Regions from separate parts of the Homo sapiens genome. Here all the other regions are linked to region 1. Evidence: fine-mapped expression QTL. A gene starts in region 1. Each other region holds a variant in brackets. All regions are shown on one strand. Distances are between the middles of the regions.

Region 1 (2,848 bases):
TGTAAGGGCTAAATTTGATGTTACCCTCGAGTTTTTCCAACTGGAACCTGCCAGGAAACTTACTAGTTATACGAGTATTAGTAAAACGTGAAAAAGACCAACAGTTGACTGACTGGTTTGGCTCTAATCTTGTTTCTGCATCTTCCTAGCTGTGTGATCTTGTGCAAGTTAGTTAACCTCTCCTGACTCAGTTTCCTCAACTGTAAAATGGAGGTAATTGCAAGGTTGTAGTGAGGATGAAGTGAGGAGTATTTGAAACACCTAGCGTGGTGCCTTATAGCCAGGAAGAACTCAATTCAAGACTTGCTATTATTGTTAGTTTTAGACAAATACTAGACAAGGGTGTACTTTGTTCCCATTTGTTCATGTGCCACTTGATCCTTAGAAGCAGCCACTGGTCTCAGTCACCTTGACGGAACGAAATGTCGACTTCCTCTGGGTCCTCTGGCTGTCTACAGAGCAAAGAAAGGCACAGGCCCGCCACTGATTTCCCTGCTCCCTCATTTGTGCCTCCTGACTGGAACCAAATGTTCCAAAGCAGGGAGTGTTAGGCTGAAAGGACTCAGATAACTGCATTTCTTCTGTTTCTATAGCCATAGTCGCAACGAATTTCCAGTATCTTTTAAAACTAGGATTGACTCTCTCTCCCGGAGCGAGATGATATAAATGACACTCGGCTTGTACAAATCAGCATTGTGTAGCCACACAGCCCATAAGAAAGCCATGGGAGAACCCGGACCACCAACTCCCTAAACTTGCACCGCTGGTATTCCTCTTCAGGCCTGCTTCTCTATTCATAAAAGGAACGGAGTTGCACCAAAACGCTCTCTCAAATCCTCTCCTGCCGCCCCAAGTTAAAAGAAAAAAAAGGAGAGCCGGGTGGGTGGCTCACACCTATAATCCAGCACTTTGGGAGGCCGAGGCAGGAGGATCGCTTGAGCCCGGGAGGTAAAGGTTGCAGTGAGCCAAGATCGCTACCACTGCACTCCAGCCTGGGCGAGAGTGAGACCTTGTCTCACATACCATAAAAAAAAAAAAAAAAAAAAAAAAAAAAAAAAAAAGAGGAAAAAAAAGGCCATTTATTTCCTTCCATATGGACTAAAGAAACGCCCGGGCGTGAACGCGGAACACCGCCGGGTAGCCAGGCCTCCGGGCTGCCACCACTTGCGGGCCGGCGTGGCGGGGCGGGGCGGGGGCTGGAGCACGGCCCGGAGCGTGCCCACGCTGCCCCGCCTCCAGCCGCTGCGCCGCAACGCAGTGGGCTCGCGGCCGCGAGCAACAGGCCGTGCCGGGTGAGTGGGGCGCTCTCGTGGGCATCCCAGCGCCGGGGCAGGCCGGGTAGTGCCCGATCCCGCGGGGCGCGCGCTGCTGCTTTAGGCACCCGGGCTCGGGTGCGGGTCTGGGAGACCTGTCGGTCGGCGAGAAGCCTCGGTGGCCGGCGCTGTGGTTGCGGGACCTGGGACGCGCTCCCAGGCGTCCCACCTCCCCGGAGACTGGGGCAGGGTGGGTGGGGCCCGGATCTAGGGGTAGGGTCGCGGAAGCCTTGGTTACAGAGAGTCGCACACGTGGCCTGCTAATGGTCGCGACACCGGTGACGAGCGCACGGAAAGTTTGGAGGCTTAGCAAGGAGGGTGGTGCCGGCCTCCGCCCGGTGGTGGCAGAACTGCCTGTGCGAGCACGGCTTCCACGTGGGCTGCGCCGCCGGGCGTCATGTCGGGCCTAAGAGACACGCTCTACAGCTGTGAAATCTGAAGTTCAGGTGTGTGGGGAGAAGGGCAGCTGCATTACATCATATGCTTCCAATTCATTTACCAGCAAATAATTCCGCAACGATTGGCCGACAGCTGGGTTGTCCAACAGGTTACTGAGACCAGGTTATTCACTGTTTTCAGGAAGGATAGACTGGGAGGAAGAGGATCTGATTTCGCCACTCATTAGCTGTAAATCTGGTGCCTCGGGTTTCATGTCACTGGGCTCATCTTTGAGCAGAGGAACCTGATTTACTCAGCTTCTTCTGCTGGTACTGGTTTTTGCCTCCTGGACATCAAGCTTTGTAACCTCATGGTCACGAAAATACATTGAGGTATAGTCCGTTTCCTCTCTAAAATCAGACTAAAAAGATAACTGCTGATCACTCCTTTAGGTCAATAGGAGAACCAGTTTTCCCTCTGGATTGATTAACATATCTCTGAGCCAAAAAGAAATGTTTTAGATCAGTCTGGGCAACCTTGTTACAAGCAATATATAATTTCTGACAGCCGTGTGTTTAACTGAGCTGCGTTTGACTGTTGTCCTCCATTAGTGGACCTAAAATTCATCTAGAGAGCGTATTACGTTAATGCAGATTATGGGCCTCAGCCATCAGAAGTGGCAATCCAGTGGGCTTGATGAGGGCCCAGAAATTTGCATGCTAACAACCTTGCTGGTAACTCTGAACTACATTCTGTAAAACTGCCCAGGGGATGTAGAAATTCATACTTCCCTCCCCGATTTAGTAATAACTACTGATGTCTAAAGTGCCTTTTAGCTTTTACGATACTCTTGAATCCTGAAGTGACAGCTGCAATCAGAAAAATAATCCCCTCTGCACAGGCCATCTGTTTTTTCCGTAACTGTTTTGTGTAAGGCCTTTGTGGTTTGTCTCCAAAATTGTATACAGACAAAAGATGAAAATGTGAAAAATTCAGCAGACATTTCTTGAGGACCTCCTATGTACCACACCGTGCTTGTTTCCGGGGATATACAAATCCTTTCCTTCAAGAGCTTCCTCACGTCTTCATGTCCTCAAATATTATAGAAAAGGAGGTTAGGGTACCTTTAAAATATAGTGACTGTCTGTCTGTTGCCT
Region 2 (2,500 bases), 31 kb before region 1:
TCTGACAAACTCAAGTGTCTTTTTCAGACTAGTTTCCTGTTTAAATATTTTAGCTTCCTCAAAAATAATTTTTGATTTGTTTTCTTCACTCCTATCCTTACAACTACCAGCCACAACCACCACTCCCAGGTGTATAGAAAAACTATACATCTGACTCTGGCTATAAGAGTCAGAAATATAGTTATAGGACCTTAGTTTCCATTTTACAGCTGAACAACAGGGTGTTTTTTTTTTTTTCTTGGCCTTCACCACTACCGTTGCCACTGTTCAAAAATCACCACGACCTGGCAATATTAACAAGCAGATGAGGGCTTCTGCCTCCTGATCCCTTTCTCAAAATTCTCAAAATCATGCACTATAAATTTACAAAGAAAAAAGAAATGACTCCTGCCCCTAAGGGATGCATTGAATAATTATTCTTTATCATAGCATAATCTAATGGCTGAATGTGTAAGTAGTAGAAACAGACTGCCTAAGTTCAAACCCTGTCTCTATCATTTATTAGCAACCTGACCTTGGACAAGTTGCTTAATCTCTCTAACCCTTAACTTTCTCATCTTTAAATGGGTTTCATAATACTCTCTATATCATAGGGTTGTGAGGATACATGATGTCATATAGTTAAGTACCTTAGAATGTTATCTGCCATATAATAGAGGCTCAATAAATATTAGTTAGTAGCTGTCATCATCACCCTATTTTCATCCACATTATTTTGATCCTTTTCATAGAGAGTATTAAGGCCTACTTTCAAAGGGCCATTGAAGGTGACTGTCTCTAGGTATAAAAACCTTCTTTATTCTTGTCTTGGGACTGACTCCCCAAATACTGGCCCAGTCCTCCATTTCCCTGGGTGCCAACTCTCTAGCCTTTTTCTCTCTGTTATTAACTCCTCTTCTTTCTACTGTATGGCAAACTAATGGAGGCAGATGTACCCGTCCCCATCCAAAATTTAGTTCAGATGCCAAAACTGATGATGCCATACACATGACAAAAGGGTATGAAGTGATTTATTACTTACATAATGAGGCTTTCTAGAGAGAGATGGGCAGGCTCCCAAGCAGGTCTGAAATGAAAAATGGCTTGAGAAAACAGGAAGGGGCTACTGGCTTGGGTTTTTATGGTAGCTAGGGGGTGCAGCTAGGGTGAAGGCTGCCTGTCGTAGGACAAGATGCATGGTTTGAACTTTTCACAGGTGCCAAAAAGAGACCTAGGCTTTTTATTAACTTGCTCAGATGTAGGGCAGAAGGAGAAGTTGGGCTTGAGAGCTTTTAGCAGTCAAACATCAAAAATAGAATCAGACTTTTTATTGTACTACCCAAAATGAAGGCTTCACAACGTTCCAAGGCAGCACCACCTTTCCTGATAGGGAAATGGACTCCCCATGACCTGCAGGTTCAACTAAAATACCACCCCT[A/G]GTCTAAAACCACAAGACAGAGCCACAGTTTGACTTCCTGGTTACTCCACCCTGCCCCCACCCCACCAAAAAAAAAAAAAAAGGACAACTGTTCTTCAGAAAATTATGAATAAAGAAAGGATGCAGTTAACTAATTTTATTTCAAGTTAATAATGAACAGAAAACTATATACCTTAATACTGTCTTTCTTTTGAATTTCTTTCACAGGTTTTCCTTATTTCTTTTAACCTCACAGTAGTTATATAAAGTTGTAAGGTCAGAAAGCTGTTATTGTACTCTACAGCCATCACTGAAACTCTCAGTGGTACACAGTAATAAATTGGGGCTGTGATGTAGGTGATACAAGACAATGAGAAGCTTAAAAATAATTTATATTTTAACTTTATAATGTACTATGTGATGTATATTTTATTACTCCTGGTAATAAAATTGTTTGGTATTCCTGAACATATATAAACTGACTGTTAGAAGCTTAGAACTAGGTAAGGAAGAAAAAGATAATGAGTATTTCATTGAGAATAGGATTCTAAGAGTAGAGTCTGCCAGTTCAGTGTGGGTTGGCCAGGTGTATTTCTTAGGCCAAATGCCTAAGTACTTAAGTGATCCATCTAATAGGTTTGCCGTCTTGGGTTTCTAAGAAATTACTGCTGAGACTAGCAGAAGGGTTTTCCAACTCTGCAATACCTATGATTTTTATTTTATAACTTTTGACCTATAGTCCCTGTGTTTTGAATAATGTTATTTGAAAATAAACAGCATTTATCATAGAAAAAAAATCTTGCTACTTATTCAGAAAAGATGTATTTCCATGTTTCCTCATGTATTGCCTTATTTTAGTAAAGATTTAACAAGATTAGCACATAGTTATTGTGAAATAAAGCAAGGTAATATAAATTAGAAATGTATGAGAAAAAAAAGAAAAACAAGGATAAGGTATTATATATATCCTGGTATGTGTATGTGGTCATTAAAGAATGGTGCTCAGAGAAGTCCTGTAGATGTCTGAAAATTTGGCTTTAAACTTCCTTGTAGTCAATGGGAGAGGTAAACCTGAACAAAATGTGTGTGTGGATGTCACCACAA
Region 3 (2,848 bases), 63 kb after region 1:
CACCTGGAAAATCGGTTCACTCCCACCCTAATACTGCACTTTTCCGGCGGGCTTAAAAAACGGTACACCACGAGATTATATCCTGCACCTGGCTCGGAGGGTCCTACGCCCACAGAGTCTCGCTGATTGCTAGCACAGCAGTCTGAGAACAAACTGCAAGGCGGCAGCCAGGCTGGGGGAGGGGTGCCCGCCATTGCCCAGGCTTGATTAGGTAAACAAAGCAGCCAGGAAGCTCGAACTGGGTGGAGCCCACCACAGCTCAAGGAGGCCTGCCTGCCTCTGTAGGCTCCACCTCTGGGGGCAGGGCACAGACAAACAAAAAGACAGCAGTAACCTCTGCAGACTTAAATGTCCCTGTCTGACAGCTTTGAAGAGAGCAGTGGTTCTCTCAGCACGCAGCTGGAGATCTGAGAACGGGCAGACTGCCTCCTCAAGTGGGTCCCTGACCCCTGACCCCTGAGCAGCCTAACTGGGAGGCACCCCCAGGCAGGGGCACACTGACACCTCACACGGCAGGGTATTCCAACAGACCTGCAGCTGAGGGTCCTGTCTGTTAGAAGGAAAACTAACAAACAGAAAGGACATCCACACCAAAAACCCATCTGTACATCACCATCATCAAAGACCAAAAGTAGATAAAACCACAAAGATGGGGAAAAAACAGAACAGAAAAACTGGAAACTCTAAAAAGCAGAGCGCCTCTCCTCCTCCAAAGGAACGCAGTTCCTCACCAGCAACGGAACAAAGCTGGATGGAGAATGACTTTGACGAGCTGAGAGAAGAAGGCTTCAGACGATCAAATTACTCTGAGCTACGGGAGGACATTCAAACTGAAGGCAAAGAAGTTGAAAACTTTGAAAAAAATTTAGAAGAATGTATAACTAGAATAACCAATACAGAGAAGTGCTTAAAGGAGCTGATGGAGCTGAAAACCAAGGCTCGAGAACTACGTGAAGAATGCAGAAGCCTCAGGAGCCAATGCAATCAACTGGAAGAAAGGGTATCAGCGATGGAAGATGAAATGAATGAAATGAAGCGAGAAGGGAAGTTTAGAGAAAAAAGAATAAAAAGAAATGAGCAAAGCCTCCAAGAAATATGGGACTATGTGAAAAGACCAAATCTATGTCTGATTGGTGTACCTGAAAGTGATGGGGAGAATGGAACCAAGTTGGAAAACACTCTGCAGGATATTATCCAGGAGAACTTCCCCAATCTAGCAAGGCAGGCCAACGTTCAGATTCAGGAAATACAGAGAACGCCACAAAGATACTCCTTGAGAAGAGCAACTCCAAGACACATAATTGTCAGATTCACCAAAGTTGAAATGAAGGAAAAAATGTTAAGGGCAGCCAGAGAGAAAGGTCGGGTTACCCTCAAAGGGAAGCCCATCAGACTAACAGAGGATCTCTCGGCAGAAACCCTACAAGCCAGAGGGGAGTGGGG[G/A]CCAATATTCAACATTCTTAAAGAAAAGAATTTTCAACCCAGAATTTCATATCCAGCCAAACTAAGCTTCATAAGTGAAGGAGAAATAAAATACTTTACAGACAAGCATATGCTGAGAGATTTTGTCACCACCAGGCCTGCCCTAAAAGAGCTCCTGAAGGAAGCGCTAAACATGGAAAGGAACAACCAGTACCAGCCGCTGCAAAATCATGCCAAAATGTAACGACCATCCAGACTAGGAAGAAACTGCATCAACTAATGAGCAAAATAACCAGCTAACATCATAATGACAGGATCAAGTTCACACATAACAATATTAACTTTAAATATAAATGGACTAAATGCTCCAATTAAAAGACACAGACTGGCAAATTGGATAAAGAGTCAAGACCCATCAGTGTGCTGTATTCAGGAAACCCATCTCATGTGCAGAGACACACATAGGCTCAAAATAAAAGGATGGAGGAAGATCTATGAAGCAAATGGAAAACAAAAAAAGGCAGGGGTTGCAATCCTAGTCTCTGATAAAACAGACTTTAAACCAACAAAGATCAAAAAAGACAAAGAAGGCCAATACATAATGGTAAGGGGATCAATTCAACAAGAAGAGCTAACTGTCCTAAATATATATGCACCCAATACAGGAGCACCAAGATTCATAAAGCAAGTCCTGAGTGACCTAAAAAGAGACTTAGACTCCCACATATTAATAATGGGAGACTTTAACACCCCACTGTCAACATTAGACAGATCAACGAGACTGAAAGTCAACAAGGATACCCAGGAATTGAACTCAGCTCTGCACCAAGCGGACCTAATAGACATCTACAGAACTCTCCACCCCAAATCAACAGAATATACATTTTTTTCAGCACCACAACACACCTATTCCAAAATTGACCACATACTTGGAAGTAAAGCTCTCCTCAGCAAATGTAAAAGAATAGAAATAATAACAAACTATCTCTCAGACCACAGTGCAATCAAACTAGACCTCAGGATTAGGAATCTCACTCAAAACCTCTCAACTACATGGAAACTGAACAACCTGCTCCTGAATGACTACTGGGTACATAACAAAATGAAGGCAGAAATAAAGATGTTCTTTGAAACCAACGGGAACAAAGACACAACATACCAGAATCTCTGGGACGCATTCAAAGCAGTGTGTAGAGGGAAATTTATAGCACTAAATGCCCACAAGAGAAAGCAGGAAAGATCCAAAATTGACACCCTAACATCACAATTAAAAGAACTAGAAAAGCAAGAGCAAACACATTCAAAAGCTAGCAGAAGGCAAGAAATAACTAAAATCACAGCAGAACTGAAGGAAATAGAGACACAAAACACCCTTCAAAAAATTAATGAATCCAGGAGCTGGTTTTTTGAAAGGATCAACAAAATT

Evidence for each region. PIP is the estimated chance that this variant, and not a neighbour inherited with it, causes the effect.
Region 2: its variant is fine-mapped to the expression of RIOX2 in blood mononuclear cells (TOPMed, PIP above 0.99). The same link has a PIP of 0.9 or more in T cells and whole blood.
Region 3: its variant is fine-mapped to the expression of RIOX2 in whole blood (INTERVAL, PIP 0.95).

What each region holds. Positions count from the first base shown.
Region 1 is chr3:97,970,825-97,973,672 of GRCh38, reverse strand. It overlaps RIOX2 (ribosomal oxygenase 2), which reads left to right and starts at 1,242. Exons shown (of 10, transcript NM_153182.4): 1 at 1,242-1,292. It overlaps LOC124909398 (a long non-coding RNA gene), which reads right to left and starts at 1,020. Exons shown (of 2, transcript XR_007095976.1): 1 at 1-1,020. RefSeq lists a silencer at 1,058-1,497 and an enhancer at 1,768-2,027.
Region 2 is chr3:98,002,416-98,004,915 of GRCh38, reverse strand. The region is part of intron 7 of GABRR3 (gamma-aminobutyric acid type A receptor subunit rho3); the gene reads left to right. Among named protein-coding and RNA genes, the nearest start is that of RIOX2, 31 kb to the right of the region's middle. The variant A/G (reference allele first, on the strand shown) is at 1,418.
Region 3 is chr3:97,907,670-97,910,517 of GRCh38, reverse strand. The region is part of intron 15 of CRYBG3 (crystallin beta-gamma domain containing 3); the gene reads right to left. Among named protein-coding and RNA genes, the nearest start is that of RIOX2, 63 kb to the left of the region's middle. RefSeq lists enhancers at 1-65, 66-656. The variant G/A (reference allele first, on the strand shown) is at 1,444.